2 separate regions of the Homo sapiens genome follow, and region 2 is linked to region 1. Evidence: fine-mapped expression QTL. Tissue or cell type: whole blood. Region 1 holds a variant in brackets; the other region holds the start of a gene. All regions are shown on one strand. Distances are between the middles of the regions.

The links. PIP is the estimated chance that this variant, and not a neighbour inherited with it, causes the effect.
Region 2: WFIKKN1 starts here. The variant in region 1 is fine-mapped to the expression of WFIKKN1 in whole blood (INTERVAL, PIP above 0.99).

The regions. Positions count from the first base shown.
Region 1 is chr16:598,169-606,168 of GRCh38, forward strand. All of the region lies in intron 1 of RAB40C (RAB40C, member RAS oncogene family), which reads left to right. It overlaps LOC124903618 (a long non-coding RNA gene), which reads right to left. Exons shown (of 2, transcript XR_007064934.1): 2 at 7,165-8,000. Among named protein-coding and RNA genes, the nearest start is that of RAB40C, 12 kb to the left of the region's middle. RefSeq lists an enhancer at 1,413-1,914. The variant G/GT (reference allele first, on the strand shown) is at 4,080.
Region 2 is chr16:627,380-635,379 of GRCh38, forward strand. It overlaps WFIKKN1 (WAP, follistatin/kazal, immunoglobulin, kunitz and netrin domain containing 1), which reads left to right and starts at 3,606. Exons shown (of 2, transcript NM_053284.3): 1 at 3,606-4,045; 2 at 5,203-6,738. The coding sequence starts at 3,875. The coding sequence ends at 6,678. RAB40C (RAB40C, member RAS oncogene family) reads left to right here. Exons shown (of 6, transcript NM_021168.5): 6 at 1-1,889. The coding sequence ends at 243. It overlaps METTL26 (methyltransferase like 26), which reads right to left. Exons shown (of 6, transcript NM_032366.5): 3 at 7,902-7,961; 4 at 7,510-7,577; 5 at 7,340-7,418; 6 at 7,051-7,265. The coding sequence ends at 7,218. RefSeq lists enhancers at 28-761, 2,231-2,964, 2,490-2,784, 2,965-3,699, 7,866-8,000 and a silencer at 148-398.

The DNA.
Region 1 (8,000 bases):
GGAGATCAAGACCATCCTGGCTAACATGGTGAAACCCTGTCTCTATAAAAATACAAAAAATTAGCTGGGCATGGTGGCGGGCACCTGTAGTCCCAGCTACTTGGGAGGCTGAGGTACGAGAATGGCGTGAATCCAGGAGGCAGAGCTTGCAGTGAGCCGAGATCACGCCACTGACTCCAGCCTGGGTGACAGAGCGAGACTCCACCTCAAAAAAAAAAAAAAATACAAATACAAATACAAAAATTAGCCGGGCGTGGTGGCGCATACCTGTAGCCCCAACTACTTGGGAGGCTGAGGCAGGAGAATTGCTTGAACCTGGGTGGCGGAGGTTGCAGAGAGCTGAGATTGTGCCACTGCACTCCAGCTTGGTGACAGAGCGAGACTCTGTCTCACAAAAAAAAAAAAAAAAAAAGAAAAAAGAAAATTAGCTGGGTGTGGTGGTGCACGTCTGTAGTCCCAATTACTTGGGAGGCTGAGGTGGGAAACTCACTGGAGCCTGGGAGGTGGTGGCTGCAGTGAGTCTGACTGTTGCACTACGTTCCAGCCTGGGTGACAGAGTGAGACCCTGTCTCAAAAAATAAAAAATAAAGAAAAGAGGATGGAAGAAGAGAAGAGCTGAGTCCTGGAAATGGGCAGGTACTTTACAGTTTGTACAGCGGCCGGATGTAAGAACCTCATGTCAACCCTGAGTGAAGGTGTAGGCCGGGCGGTCAAGCACAGCACTCTCCAGCAGCTCCAGCAGCGTGGGTAACCCGGTGGGAGCCTGTGTGCTGCTTTCCCTGCCCGGGGCCGGCGGCTGCTGCTGGGCTTTCGCCTGACTTCCTGGTCAGCAACGTTGTCGGCCACCTGGGCACAGCAGGTACAGCCTGTGTGTCAGACCTAGCTGGGAGGGGCGGTAATAGGGTAGATGACATCAGGATTCAGGACTCTGAACACAAACACAGTGACACTGATCAGGGTTGCCGAGGTGCTGTGTTTCGGTCCAGAAAGTCACTGCTGCAGGGGAGGGGAGTATGGTCACAGCCCAGGCCCCGGCCCCGGCCGAAGCTGCCACTGACAGGAGACCCTTCTCTGCCTGTGCCACCAGCTTTGCTCCGAGGGGTGTCTGTGTCCTCAGGCTCTGCCAAGGCAGTGTCAGGCTGATGCCTGCCCGTGTCGGCCGGCCACAGCCCTAGTGGCTGCCCGCAGAGTCTTGCGCCCACCTGATTCCTGCCTGAGAGGAGCCGCCAGGTCAGCTGATGCCAGCAGGACCCACTTCACCAGGTCAGCAAGGAGGAGGCAGCTTCCCTTGGGGCCACGCCGTGCCTCCTCCGTGTGCGCTGCTGCCATGGCTGCTTCTGTCGATAGGCATGTACGTGAAAATGCACACCCGTGGGTGTTCGCTACTGTCAGCGTGGATTCAGCAAGGTTTTGTTCCCTCGTGGCATCAGTCAGCGTGGATTCAGCAAGGTTTTGTTACCTCGTGGCATTAATCAGCGTGGATTCAGCAAGGTTTTGTTCCCTTGTGGCATCAGTCAGCGTGGATTCGCAAGGTTTTGTTCCCTCGTGGCATCAGTCAGCGTGGATTCGCAAGGTTTTGTTCCCTCGTGGCATCAGTCAGCGTGGATTCGCAAGGTTTTGTTCCCTCGTGGCATCAGTCAGCGTGGATTCGCAAGGTTTTGTTCCCTCGTGGCATCAGTCAGCGTGGATTCGCAAGGTTTTGTTCCCTCGTGGCATCAGTCAGCGTGGATTCGCAAGGTTTTGTTCCCTCGTGGCATCAGTCAGCGTGGATTCGCAAGGTTTTGTTCCCTCGTGGCATCAGTCAGCGTGGATTCGCAAGGTTTTGTTCCCTCGTGGCATCAGTCAGCGTGGATTCGCAAGGTTTTGTTCCCTCGTGGCATCAGTCAGCGTGGATTTGCAAAGTTTTGTTCCCTTGTGGCATCATACTCCTTTCCTGTTTGGTTTGGGACTCCCATGGCCCCCTTGATGTTGGAGCCTCTTCAGGTGGCACCTGCGTCCTGGGCTATGCCCTGAGTTCCCGGAGCTCCCTGTGTCCTGGAACAGTCTGTACTTCCAGCAGATGTGGGTCCTGCCTGCCCTGGAAACGGCCATCTCTCTGAAGAGCCTGTGTCCTCCTGGTGGGGAGGGATAGCTAGTATGTCAGCTTCTTAAATTACTTTATTAAAAATTGAGTATATGCAAAATAGTAGTCATAATAATAGTAATAGTAGCAAGTGCAAAGTGTAAGTAATAGAAATGGATGTCACCTAACCTGCCGAGTTTAAAACATTGTTGTTGGACTTTTTTAAAGAGCTTTGGTGCCGGATGGGCACGGTGGCTCACGCCTGTGATCCCAGCACTTTGGGAGGCCGAGGCGGGCGGATCACAAGGTCAAGAGATCAAGACCGTTCTGACCAACATGGTGAAACCCCGTCTCTACTAAAAATTCAAAAATTAGCTTGGCCTGGTGGCATGCACCTGTATTCCCAGCTACTCAGCAGGCTGAGGCAGGAGAATCGCTTGAACCTGGGGAGGCGGAGGTTGCAGTGAGCCGAGTTTGCACCACTACACTCCAGCCTGGGCGACAGAGTGAGACTCCATCTCAAAAAAATAAAAATAAGAGCTTTGGTGCCTACGTGCGTCACACAGACAGTTTAACACATAATTCATTATCAGCAAGCGGTGACTGCCCAGGTTTTGCCTGTGGGGAAACAGAAAGGTTTTGACTCCAGTCTCTGTCTTCTGAAGAGCTGGCAGTCACAACTGTGGCAGAGCCTGGTGTGTGGCAGCTGCGTGAGGCTCTCCTGGACTGCTGTGGAGGAAGGGGCCCTCTGGCACCCCAGGAGCAGCCTGCCCCTCTGTCTGCCTCTGCATTTAGACCCTTAGCCTCCTTGCAGAGCCACCTCCTGGTCATTAGCGTTAAAGCTCTTCTCTCCTGATGTAGTTTTCCTCACCGTTCAGTAAATGGGCCTGCTGCTTGTGTTTGGAACAGAGATAGAAGCTGTAGCTCCCACGTGTGTGTGGAGCTGGTTTGACTTTTAAAAAATTGTAGTACCAAAAACTATGATTTTTTGTGTGTTATCCACACCATCAAGGCTGTATCACCGAGTATCTGCTCATTCTGAAAGTGTGCATCCTTTCTGAATTGAAATGAAAGAGCAGGAGAAACCGTCTGTGTCCAGCCTGTTAGAGGTGTTACATTTGCCCTAGGTGGGCTGGGCAGAAGGCTGTTCTGCTCGGGAGCAACAGTGTCCACACGTCAGTTTCCAGAGCCCGGGTCGCCAGGATCCGGCTCAGAGTGTGAGTTTGCTCAGGTGTGTGCTGAGCACCCCTGGGTGCCAGACTCCGGGCAGGTCCCCGCCGCAGCCGCGTCAGCAGAGCAATGTGATCGTTGCTGGGACTGTTCCCCTAGTCTCAGTCAGTTCACTAGGGCCATGCATGCAGTGTTCAGACAGGAGATTCTCATGAAAAATAGAATTGTTATCCTAAAATTACATGAGAGGGAATGCTTATAAGTTTATCAAATAGTAAAACATCACAACACAGGACCGGGTGCGGTGGTGCACGCCTATAATCCCAGCTACTTGGGAAGTCAAGGCAGGCGATCCCCTGAGGCCGGGGGTTCAGACTAGGCAACGTAGCAAGGCCCTATCCCTGCAAAAAAAAGTAAAAAAAAAAAAAAAAAAAAAAAAAAAAAAGGCCGGATGCGGTGGCTCACGCCTGTAATCCCAGCACTTTGGGAGGCCGAGGTGGGTGGATCACGAGGTCAGGAGATTGGGACCATCCTGGCCAGCATGGTGAAACTCCGTCTCTACTGAAAATATAAAAGTTAGCGGGGTGTGGTGTCGGGCACCTGTAATCCCAGCTACTCAGGAGGCTGAGGCAAGAGAATCGCTTCAACCCAGGAGGCAGAGGTTGCAGTGAGCCGAGATTGCACCACTGCACTCCAGCCTGGGCAACAGCTCTCAAAACAAAACAAAAAACTACTGATTTGGAGGCACATTTAATGATTATTCAATGAAGTGTATATGCTTGATATCTTAAGTATGTAAAATAATTGTGGAATGAAATATATGACAACATTAGCAGTGGTCATCTCT[G/GT]TTTTTTTTTTTTTGGTTTTGTTTTTTTTTATTAGAGAGACAGTTTCACTCTTCCAGGCTGGAGTGCAGTGATCATAGTTCACTGCAGCCTCAAATTCCAGGGTTCTAGTGATCCTCCCGCCTCAGCCTCTCAAGTAGCTAAGACCATAGGCATGCACCACAACACCTGGCTAATTTTTTAATAAATTATTTTTTTATTTTTGAGACAAAGTCTTGCTCTTGTCCACCAGGCTGGAGTGTGATGGCACGATCTTGGCTCACTGCAACGTCTGCCTCCTGGGTTCAAGCCTCTTGCCTCAGCCCCCCGAGTAGCTGGGATTACAGGCACCTGCCACCACGCCCGGCTAGTTTTTTGGTATTTTTTTAGTAGAGATGAGGTTTCACCATGTCGGCCAGGCTGGTCTCGAGTTCCTGACCTCAAGTGATCCACCCACCTCGGCCTCCCAAAGTGCTGGGATTACAGGCGTGAGCCACTGTGCCTGGCCAATAAATTATTTTTTGTAGAATTGAGGTCTTGCCATGTTGCCTAGGCTAGTGGTCTTGAACTCCTGGGCTCAAGTGATTCTCTCACCTTGGCCTCCCAAAGTGTCGAGATGACAGGTGTTAGCCACCAAGCACAGCCAGAAATGAGTCTTAAAGTGGACATGAGATTGGGGTTTAAGCCACACTAAGCTGGATTTGTAATCATTGAAAGTAATCTGAGAGCTATGGGATCTGCTCCTTAAAAGATGGGAGAGGAGAATTTTAAGAGATAGGGTCTCACTGTGTTGCCCAGGCTGGTCTTGAACCGTGGCGCTGAAGCAATCCTCCTGCCTCAGCCTCCTGAGTAGCTGGGGCCAGACCTGTGTTTTTTGTTTTCTTAATGTTCTGTGTTTAGCCAGGTGTTCTGTGCCAAGTGTGCCTGCTCTTTGTAGACACGAGAGCCCTTTTGGCTTGTTGTGGGTTTTAAGGCGTTAAGTAAAAGCTCTAGCTTCGCAGGAAACCAGTCCACAAACTGCCCTAGAATTTCTTCTGACATTTGGCATGCTGGTGTACACAGACACATTTGAAATTTGTTAGATAACTTTTCCTTCCTTTACTGTCCTCCATCAGGCAGGCGCCGGTTTGCCTGCAGTGGGGTTGGTGGACGTGGGCTGTCCTTGTCTCAGAAGACATCCGAGGGGAGTGGTATGCCGGAAGATTGAATGCGGAGCGCCGGCCCCGCACGTGAATGACTTAGAGCCCCAGGTCTTCAGGGACAGGCAGTGCCTTCACATCTGGCTCTGATATGTGTTCAGGCTGTCTTGTAGGGTAATCCGGTCCCCTAATCCTTAGACCTCCAAATTCAAAGCAGATCAATGCCCTGTGGGTTTAATTTTTTTAAATCAATTTTATTGAGAGATGATGTCTATTTAATAAATGTACCCTCTTTGCATGTACAGTTCTATGAGTTTTGGCACATATATGTACCTATGCAGCCAGTACCCTCATCCAAATCAGGAGCACATCCACTCTCCTCCCAGAAAGCCCCTCAGGCCCTGCCGAGTCAGCCCCCAGCCCCCAGCAGTCGGCTTCCATCACATGGGCTGCTTTTTCCTGTTCCAGACATCATGGATACGAAGCAGACCCTGGTTTCTTTTGCTCAGCAGTTTTGAAACTTATTCATGATGTACAATAGTAGATTCTTCTTTTTTTGTTCCCAAGTGGTATTCCTTTGCACAAATATACCCCAGTTTGTTTATGCATTTACCTTGTTGATGCACATTTGGGTTATTTCCTGGTTTGGGGTATTACGAATAATGCTGATGTGAACGAGTTCTTCTTTTTTCTTTTTCTTTTTTTTTTTTTTGAGACTCTCGTTCTGTTGCCCCAGCTGGAGTGCAGTGGTATGATCTCAGCTCACTGCAGCCTCTACCTCTTGGGCTCAACTGATCCTCCCACCTAGCAGCTCCCTAGCAGCTGGGACTACAGGCATGTACCACCACACCCGGCTCAGAGCTAGTTCTTTTAAATTTTTTTTTTTAATTATTTTTCTTGTAAAATACAGAAAACACGTCATTTTAGCCATATGTAGGGATACAGTTCAGTGGCACTAGCACTAAACTATAACACAAATACGCACGAGGCCTTCTGAAGGTGTTTCTCTAGAATACACGTGAATCCTTCTGAAGGTGTTTCTCTAGAATACACGAGTCCTTCTGAAGGTGTTTCTCTAGAATATATGTGAGTCCTTCTGAAGGTGTTTCTCTAGAATACACGTGAGTCCTTCTGAGGGTGTTTCTCTAGAATACACGTGAGTCTTTCTGAAGGTGTTTCTCTAGAATATATGTGAGTCTTTCTGAAGGTGTTTCTCTAGAATACACGTGAGTCCTTCTGAAGGTGTTTCTCTAGAATATATGTGAGTCTTTCTGAAGGTGTTTCTGTTCCCTTAGGTAGATCTAAGAGTGGAATTGCTGTCATATATGAGTGTACGTTTTAATTTATAAGCTTGCCCAGCCTGGGCAACATAGTGAGAACTCGTTGCTATAAACATATTGAAAAATTAGCCTGGGGCTGGGTGTGGTGGCTCATGCCTGTAGTCTCAGCACTTTGGGAGGCCGAGGCAGGCAGATCACTTGAGGTCAGGAGTTTGAGACCAGCCTGGCCAACATGGTGAAACCGTATCTCTACTAAAAATACAAAGTTAGCCTGGTGTGGTGGTGGTGCTTGTGGTCCCAGTTACTTGGGAGGCTGAGGCAGGACAATCACTTGAACCCGGGAGGCGGAGGTTGGAGTGAGCTGAGATCATGCCACTGCACTCCAGCCTGGGCGACAGAGTGAGACTTTGTCTCAAAAAAATAAATAAATTAGCCTGGTGTGGTGACGCACACTTGTAATAGTCTTAGCTACTCAGGAGGCTGAGGCAGGAGGATCGTGTGAGCCCTGGAGTTGGAGGCTGCAGCGAGCCGTGATTGTTCCGCTGCACTCCAGCCTGAGCAGCACAGTGAGACCTGATCTCAAAAGAGAAAACTGTTTGCTCAAGCAGCCCCATTGTTTCATAGTCCCATCAGCAATGCATGAGAGTTCCAGGTGCTCCACATCTTTGCCAACATTTGATGTTGTCAGCTTTCCGTCTTTTAATTAATCAGCTTTATTGAGGTGTAATTTGTGTACAAAAAAACCCCTTTAAAGTCTGCAATACAGTGAGTGCGGACAGGCATGCCGGCCTGAGAAAGCATCAGCCCTCGCAGCCTCGCCCTCTGCAGGCCTCTCACACTCTGCCCCCGGCCTGGCATGTCACTGTGGACTCATCTGCCTTGTCTAGTTTTCACGTCAATGGAGCCACACAGGGCAAACTCTCCTGTGTCCGGCTGCCTTCTTTCCATGTCTTCTGGGTGAGCTTCGGCCACGTGGTTGAGTGCAGTTGCTCCCTCCTTCCCCGCGCCGAGTGGTCTCCCGTGTGTCAAGGCTGCAGTGCATTGGCTCCACTCCAGATGGGCTTTGGGATGGTTTCCATGTTGGGTGACTCTCACAGGGCTCCTGTGAGGAGTCTCAGACGCGTTTGGTCAACACAGGTGCCCATTGCTGTTGGGACGTACTGAGGAGTGGAAGCTGGGCTGTAGGGCCTGTGTAGATGCTGCCAACCCGTTCTCCAAAGCAGTCACACAGTTTCTGTCCCACAGGAGAGAGGGAGAGTCCTGTTTGTTCTAAGTCCTGCCTTCCTTTTAGCCATGCTGATGGCTGCAAGCTTGTTTCTTTGTAATAGCCATAGAACATTTCTATTCTGTCAGTAACCATTCCCCAGTGGGTGGATTTTTAGTTTGGATTCAGTTTATTTATAATAAATACAGGGCCGCAATAGATGGCCTTTCTACTCCTTTTCTGTTATTGCTGACACATAGTCCTCTCGGTCCTCAGTCCAGTGTGGGTTTCCCTGGGCTGAAGTCAAGGTGTTGGCTGACA
Region 2 (8,000 bases), 29 kb after region 1:
TCCTGCACCCCCGTGCACCTCATCGACAAGCTTCCACTGCCCGTCACCATCAAGAGCCACCTCAAGTCCTTCTCGATGGCCAACGGCATGAACGCGGTCATGATGCACGGCCGTTCCTACTCCCTGGCCAGCGGGGCCGGGGGCGGCGGCAGCAAGGGCAACAGCCTCAAGAGGTCCAAGTCCATCCGTCCACCCCAGAGCCCCCCCCAGAACTGCTCGCGGAGTAACTGCAAGATCTCCTAGCGGGGATGGGCGGGGCCGCCTGTGCAGATGCCAGGAGGGCTCGAGCTGGACACTCCTGGCTGGACGCCAGGCCAGTGCCGCCTACGTGGAGACTGTCCACACAGCTGCCTCAGAAGCGCCGGGCTTTCCTCACACCTGAGCCGGGTGCGAGGAGGAGCATGCACGGACCAAGCGCGGCAGGCGGGAGGAGGGGGCGCGGCTGGGCTGCTGGTGCTTCCGGGAATCTTGGTCGGAAACAAGCCGGGCCTCCCCAGCTGCCTGGGCTTGACCGGCGGGGAGCCTGGTTGGCCTTTCTTATTTATATAGAGAACACTTCACTTTTTTGTACATTTTTAAGGGGCCTTCAGGGAAGCCTGGGTGTGGCCCGGTGGTGGTGCACTGGTGACTTCATGGCCACGCCAGCTGCGGGGACGCACTTGGGACTCCTCGAGAGGGGACTCGCGGCCGCGATGGCAAGGCATCCTGTGAATTCATGCGCTGCGAGTGGCGGGGCTGCCCAGAGGCCGGGGGAGCAGACAGGGCCGGTGCTCCCTCTGGAAGCTTGGGTGACCGGGGCCCTGGCTCCCACGGGATGGAGGGTGTGGTCCTGTGGTCAGAGCCCAAGCAGCACTCAGGAGAGGGGAGAAAGGAGGTGCACCTGGCAGCCCACATTTTTGTTGCTCCCCAAATCCCTCCCCACGTGGGGATGAGAACCTTCCTGCTGTGATGTGACACCTTCGGGGACATTGACCACTCAAAACTCAGATCATCTCGCCCACCCTGGAGAGTGCAGAGCTATCTGTAGACTTAGGAATACTTGATGGGCAGCGGTGCAGACCCCGGGCACCTGCGTGCAGCCTCCTGTTCTCGGCAGCTTCTGTCGCTGGCCCTGGGGTCCCCACAGCTGCAGCTCTCCTGTGAGGTTGCACGGCATCAGAACCATCCTGACCTTCTTAGGGACGTGCCTGGAACCACCTCGTCCACGTCCACGTCCACCTGGGGGCCTCGGGAGGCTAGGCCCCTCCTCAAAGGCCCACCAGCCCGGCGCTCATGCTGAGCCCCAGGCACGCAGGGCCGGCCACCTCTCTCCTGAAGCCATTGGCCGCTCCTCCACCCAGTGCTTCTGCCCATGCCTGCCCCAGCAGCCCCTCTGCACGGTCACCATCGCCTGGGCCTGCCCACAGCACTGGTGCTCACCTCTACCTCCTGTCCTCAGGCCGTGCGGCACGACATGGCCAGCACGCAGAAGGAGCCCTCCCGGGACCCAGGACCCCCCGTGGTGGACTCCGCGGCACATGCTTCCCAAGGTGGTCCCACGGAGGGTGTTACTGGGCACCAGTGGACTCGCCCCATGGCCCGTTCCTGGGAGATGAGGGCCGTGGCCTGCATGAACTACCAGATGAGTAAGGGAACCCCAGGCAGGCGGCCCTGCCACAGCCCCCAAAGACACTGGCCTCCTGCTCCAGCTTCCCTGTCCTGGCCCCACCTGTCCTGTTGCTGCCAGCAGGGCCCTTGTTTGGGATTATGAACAAACCTCACAGACTTTGAGGACCTGGATGGTCCTGCATTCACGGCATCAACACTACCCGCGCTGCTGTTAGACACTCCGCCATTCCTGGTTCTCTCCGAACCGTTCTTTGTACAGTAAATGTAATTCAGCTGTGGTCCCCACGTTTTGCTGTGTCTGGTGGGGTGGGTCTGGCAGTGGCGGTGCCCCGTGCCAGGGGCCAGTGCTGCTTCATACCCGGCAAACTGACCTCTGGCCTTTGTTTTGCCTGCTGTTCCCTGCGCTGACCGGGCTGACCTGCCGCGGTTGGCTGGGTTCGCCTCAAAGTGAGGGCTGGAGCTGGGCTGGAGCAGCTGGGCCTGGTCACGGCCATTCTCCTCTTCCCGGTGGATGGAATCCCAGCTGGGCTGTGCTGAGCCCTCGCTCACAGTCCCCGGCAGCAGATGGCCTGGGGCGGACTGTCCCCAACAGCAGCAGGACTCCAGAGGGCCAGGTCCTCCAGTCAGTCGGCCCGCTCAGCAGAGCCGCCTGCACGCTGGCCAATCTGGTGTCTGCTATGCCCGGCCCAGGGGGGTGTGGACGCCCCGGAGGTCACAGCTGAGCTGGAACGGGGCACTCCAGTTGGTACAGGGACCAGACCACAGCCTCTGGCTCAGGTGCCTCCCTGTGCTGTTTCGTGGGCATGTCCGGGCCTTAAGCCCCTCCCTGGCAGCTCCAGCCCAGCCGCCTGCTGCTGGGTCTGGCCTAGCTACCCCCACCCCCACGCTATCAGGGCCCACCCCCAGTCTCCTTGTAGAGCAGGGACTGGCGCCTGGAGCCGTCTCCGGGTCTCATTCTGACCAGACCAGGCTCCTGTTACCCTGCCTCCTGGGTCAGAGGTCAGACACAGGGTCAGGGGGACACTCCCATCCGGTCTCAAGAGAACCACTCCCTGAGGCCCCAGACATCTGGAGCCACAGAGGGTTTGGAAGGGTAGATTCCAGGCAGCCTTTTGTCCTGCTGCACCAGGCAGGCCAGCCCCCTGCCCTCCCCAACGAAGAGGAGCCAGCCTGGGGATGTGTGCCCCGCCGACGGGGGGCTGGGGCAGGGCAAGGCTCTGGTGCCCTGGGACACTTGCTCTTTTCAGCTGCAGACGCCCTTGCACTTGGCCTTCCCTCGGGCGGTGCCATCCCACGCGGAGCCACGTCCAGGGCTACACGGTGCGTGGGCCGAGGCTCCGGCATCAGCGTTTCGGGCTGTTCTTATGCTTGTGGTGGCCACAGGCCTCTTCCTGCTGCACCTGCCCCGCCTTGGGGACAGGCCTGAGCCCCAAGCCCGCTGCCTGGTTTCAGGGATGGGGTCTCTGGGAATGCAGTCCTGCCGGGTTGGGCCCCACTCCAACAGGGGCAGCAGAGCAGAGGAGGCCGGGCTGTGCTGGGCGTCCTGCAGACCCCTGTGCCCCTGAAACAGCCATGGAGGGGGGAAGGAACCTCGGAGCGGAGTGAAGCCCTCGGCCGCACGTGACCGTTGCCAGCCTGGACCTGGCCCGGGGGACCCAGGCTGTGGTCAGCCACGCTCTGCGGGGAGGGCCCGTGCCTGCCACCCCCATGGCATAGGAGCCTGGGGTCCAGAGGGCGCCAGGGACAAAAGCTGGGATCTGCTGGCCCTGCCCCCACCCTACTGAGGGTCGTCAAGGAGATTGATCTCAGCCCAGGGGTGGACGAAGGGGTTCAGGTTACAGGGTCCCCTCCCCTCCCCCTCTCCAGCCAGAGCCAGCCCTTCCCCGCCCCGGTGACCCTCATGGCCAGTGGCTCTGTGCTCATGGGCCTCTGGCCCCTCCCCAACCTCCTCCCCTCTGCCCTGTGCTGACCAGGGCCTGGGAGCCCCCGCACGGTTCAGACAGAGGGGCCAGGCTGAAGCTGGAGAGGAACCAGCGTCACACAGACGGCCTCTGAGAACTTGGAGACCCCGTTACCCACCCAGCAGGGGTGTCAGGACAAGCATCTGCTGCAGGCTTCAGCCTCAGGGGCAAAAGGGAGCCCCGGGGTCCTGGTGGGGGCACCGACCACAGGCCCGGAGGGTGGATGCCTGCAGGAAGCTGGGCTCTGTGGAGCCCGAGGAGGGGCTGGTGGCCACACCCCCCGGCCCCCTGGCTCGGCGGCCCTCATGCCCGCCCTACGTCCACTCCTGCCGCTCCTGCTCCTCCTCCGGCTGACCTCGGGGGCTGGCTTGCTGCCAGGGCTGGGGAGCCACCCGGGCGTGTGCCCCAACCAGCTCAGCCCCAACCTGTGGGTGGACGCCCAGAGCACCTGTGAGCGCGAGTGTAGCAGGGACCAGGTGAGTGTGGTCGGGCCGGGGTCCTGGGGCTCAGAGCAGCCAGCCTGGGCAAGACCCTGCTGGAGGTGCCACCTTCTGCCTGGGCTCCCCAGACTTCTGGGGGGTCTGGGTCTGGGCCCCTTAAGGGGCCCAGAGACACCCCCATCGTTGCCCTCATTTGTCTTAAGAATAAGAGCCCTCCCCACTCCAGCTTTCATGCTCCCCATGTGCCTCCACCCTGGGGCACCATCATCCTCGGCGACCACCCCCACCCCGTCACTGCCTCTCCTCCCACCCTCTCCTCCCACCCTCTCCTCCCATCCACTTCTCCCACCCCTTCACTGCCTCTCCTTCCATCCTCTCCTCCCACCCTCTCCTCCCATCCACTCCTCCCATCCACTTCTTCCATCCTCTTCTCCCACCCCGTCACTGCCTCTCCTTCCATCCTCTCCTATCCACTCCTCCCATCCACTTCTTCCATCCTCTTCTCCCACCCCATCACTGCCTCTCCTTCCATCCTCTCCTATCCACTCCTCCCATCCACTTTTTCCATCCTCTTCTCTCACCCCGTCATTGCCTCTCCTTCCATCCTCTCCTCCCATCCACTTCTCCCACCCCTTCACTGCCTCTCCTCCCACCCTCTCCTCCCATCCACTCCTCCCATCCACTCCTCCCATCCACTTCTTCCATCCTCTTCTCCCACCCCGTCACTGCCTCTCCTTCCATCCTCTCCTCCCACCCTCTCCTTCCATCCTCTCCTCCCACCCTCTCCTTCCATCCACTGTCCTCCCTGTCCTCCCACCCTCCTTCCATCCGGGACCAGTGCAGATGGTGGTGGGGGTGCTGCAGCCGATGTCCAGCCTTTGTCCTGGCCCGCACCACCTGCTGGGTGGTCCTGAGCACTGTACGCCCTCCTTGGGCCTCAGTTTCCTCGTCTGTACAACGTAAAGAATAACGGAACTTGCTTGTGGGTGTGAGGATTCTGGAAGGTAAGCCAGGTGGCACCTCTGGCGAGGTGGCTCCTCACACAGGATGGAAAGGACACTGAGTCCCCGGGGAGGCAGCCACAGAGCGGGGGGCTCCCTGCTACCCCACCTGGGCCTCCCCTTGCAGGGGCCAGGCCAGAGCCCCGGGGCGGGGGGCATTGGGGCTCCCACCTAAGTGTCCCCCATCCCCAGGACTGTGCGGCTGCTGAGAAGTGCTGCATCAACGTGTGTGGACTGCACAGCTGCGTGGCAGCACGCTTCCCCGGCAGCCCAGCTGCGCCGACGACAGCGGCCTCCTGCGAGGGCTTTGTGTGCCCACAGCAGGGCTCGGACTGCGACATCTGGGACGGGCAGCCCGTGTGCCGCTGCCGCGACCGCTGTGAGAAGGAGCCCAGCTTCACCTGCGCCTCGGACGGCCTCACCTACTACAACCGCTGCTATATGGACGCCGAGGCCTGCCTGCGGGGCCTGCACCTCCACATCGTGCCCTGCAAGCACGTGCTCAGCTGGCCGCCCAGCAGCCCGGGGCCGCCGGAGACCACTGCCCGCCCCACACCTGGGGCCGCGCCCGTGCCTCCTGCCCTGTACAGCAGCCCCTCCCCACAGGCGGTGCAGGTTGGGGGTACGGCCAGCCTCCACTGCGACGTCAGCGGCCGCCCGCCGCCTGCTGTGACCTGGGAGAAGCAGAGTCACCAGCGAGAGAACCTGATCATGCGCCCTGATCAGATGTATGGCAACGTGGTGGTCACCAGCATCGGGCAGCTGGTGCTCTACAACGCGCGGCCCGAAGACGCCGGCCTGTACACCTGCACCGCGCGCAACGCTGCTGGGCTGCTGCGGGCTGACTTCCCACTCTCTGTGGTCCAGCGAGAGCCGGCCAGGGACGCAGCCCCCAGCATCCCAGCCCCGGCCGAGTGCCTGCCGGATGTGCAGGCCTGCACGGGCCCCACTTCCCCACACCTTGTCCTCTGGCACTACGACCCGCAGCGGGGCGGCTGCATGACCTTCCCGGCCCGTGGCTGTGATGGGGCGGCCCGCGGCTTTGAGACCTACGAGGCATGCCAGCAGGCCTGTGCCCGCGGCCCCGGCGACGCCTGCGTGCTGCCTGCCGTGCAGGGCCCCTGCCGGGGCTGGGAGCCGCGCTGGGCCTACAGCCCGCTGCTGCAGCAGTGCCATCCCTTCGTGTACGGTGGCTGCGAGGGCAACGGCAACAACTTCCACAGCCGCGAGAGCTGCGAGGATGCCTGCCCCGTGCCGCGCACACCGCCCTGCCGCGCCTGCCGCCTCCGGAGCAAGCTGGCGCTGAGCCTGTGCCGCAGCGACTTCGCCATCGTGGGGCGGCTCACGGAGGTGCTGGAGGAGCCCGAGGCCGCCGGCGGCATCGCCCGCGTGGCGCTCGAGGACGTGCTCAAGGATGACAAGATGGGCCTCAAGTTCTTGGGCACCAAGTACCTGGAGGTGACGCTGAGTGGCATGGACTGGGCCTGCCCCTGCCCCAACATGACGGCGGGCGACGGGCCGCTGGTCATCATGGGTGAGGTGCGCGATGGCGTGGCCGTGCTGGACGCCGGCAGCTACGTCCGCGCCGCCAGCGAGAAGCGCGTCAAGAAGATCTTGGAGCTGCTGGAGAAGCAGGCCTGCGAGCTGCTCAACCGCTTCCAGGACTAGCCCCCGCAGGGGCCTGCGCCACCCCGTCCTGGTGAATAAACGCACTCCCTGTGCCTCAGACCTCCTGGCTTGCTGCTGCTGGTCGGGCGACCCTCATCCTTCCAGGTGCCCCATGCCCAGCCAGTTTCCGCTGGGGCCTTGACACCCACTGGGGCTTGGGCTTTGGTACAAGGTCACCAGGGAGTGCCTGTCCGCCCCTGCATCCCCAACCAGCTCCATCCTGCCTCAGCAGCTGTCTCGGCCCCAATCCCACTGCCCGAGCTCCAGCAGCAAGGATCAGGACGTCCCAAGCCCTTGACCCCACAGGAGACCCCGTCTCCCACCCAACCTCACAAGGTGCTCCTAGGAGGAGGTGGGGCAGACACCAGCAAGCCGGCAGCAGGACATGCTTTATTCTGAGCAGGCTGGGCCCTTCGGCCAGCGGCTGAGAGCACAGACTGGGTGGGGCTGTCGTCCACAAGGTCCGGCCTAGGGAGGCAGGGTTCGTGCCTCACAGAGCCTCCGGCAGGGATGCAGGTGTGCGGGGGTGAAGGAGGGGCTTAGTTTTTCCGGAAGATCAGGCATTTGTTGTTGGCTGGCATGTCCACCTGGAGAAACACTTTGCTGGAGGACGGCCCTCAACCCCTAGAGAGGTTGCCTGGGCCCCCGCTCCCCCACCTACCATCCTCTCCAGGAGCAGGCCACTGGCCTTTCCCAGGTCCTCCAGGAGGGCTGTGTCCCGAAGCCCCCATTCTGGGTTCCTGCAGAGGGTGGGGAGATGGAGTCATGGCCTGGGGGGTGCCACCCAAGCCACCTGCCACCTGAGCCAGACCCCCCGCCTCTAGCTCTGACCTGCATCTGAGCATCAGGTCAAAGTCCACGTTGCTCTGGGGGGAGATCTTCCCATTGATGGCATAGGGCTGTGGGCATGGGGACACAGCCCACTGGACCAAGGTCGGGGTATTTCCCAGAGAGCCTGGGACAGACTTGCAGGCTGGGGTTTGGAGAATGAAAGGGCACCCCCTCCCTGTCCCCAAGAGGGAGTCAGCCAAGGCCAGCCTGGTGGGCAAGGGGGTAGGGAGGCTGGCAGATGACCCAGGGAGGGGTACAGACTGGAAGTGGAGGGGAGGCCGTGCTGGTGGCTGGGCGGGGGGCAGGGAGCCCAGGAGGGAGGACTCTCAGCAGGGCAGGAGACAGCAGCTAGGACTGGGAGCGGGAGGCCCGCCGTGGACAGGCCCACTCACCCCGTAGGTGATGAGCAGGGCCCTGGGTTTGAGCAGGTGTCCTGCTGCTCTGAAGAGCCCCTGGTGAGTAGGAACAGGACGGCAGTGAGGTGCTGCCCC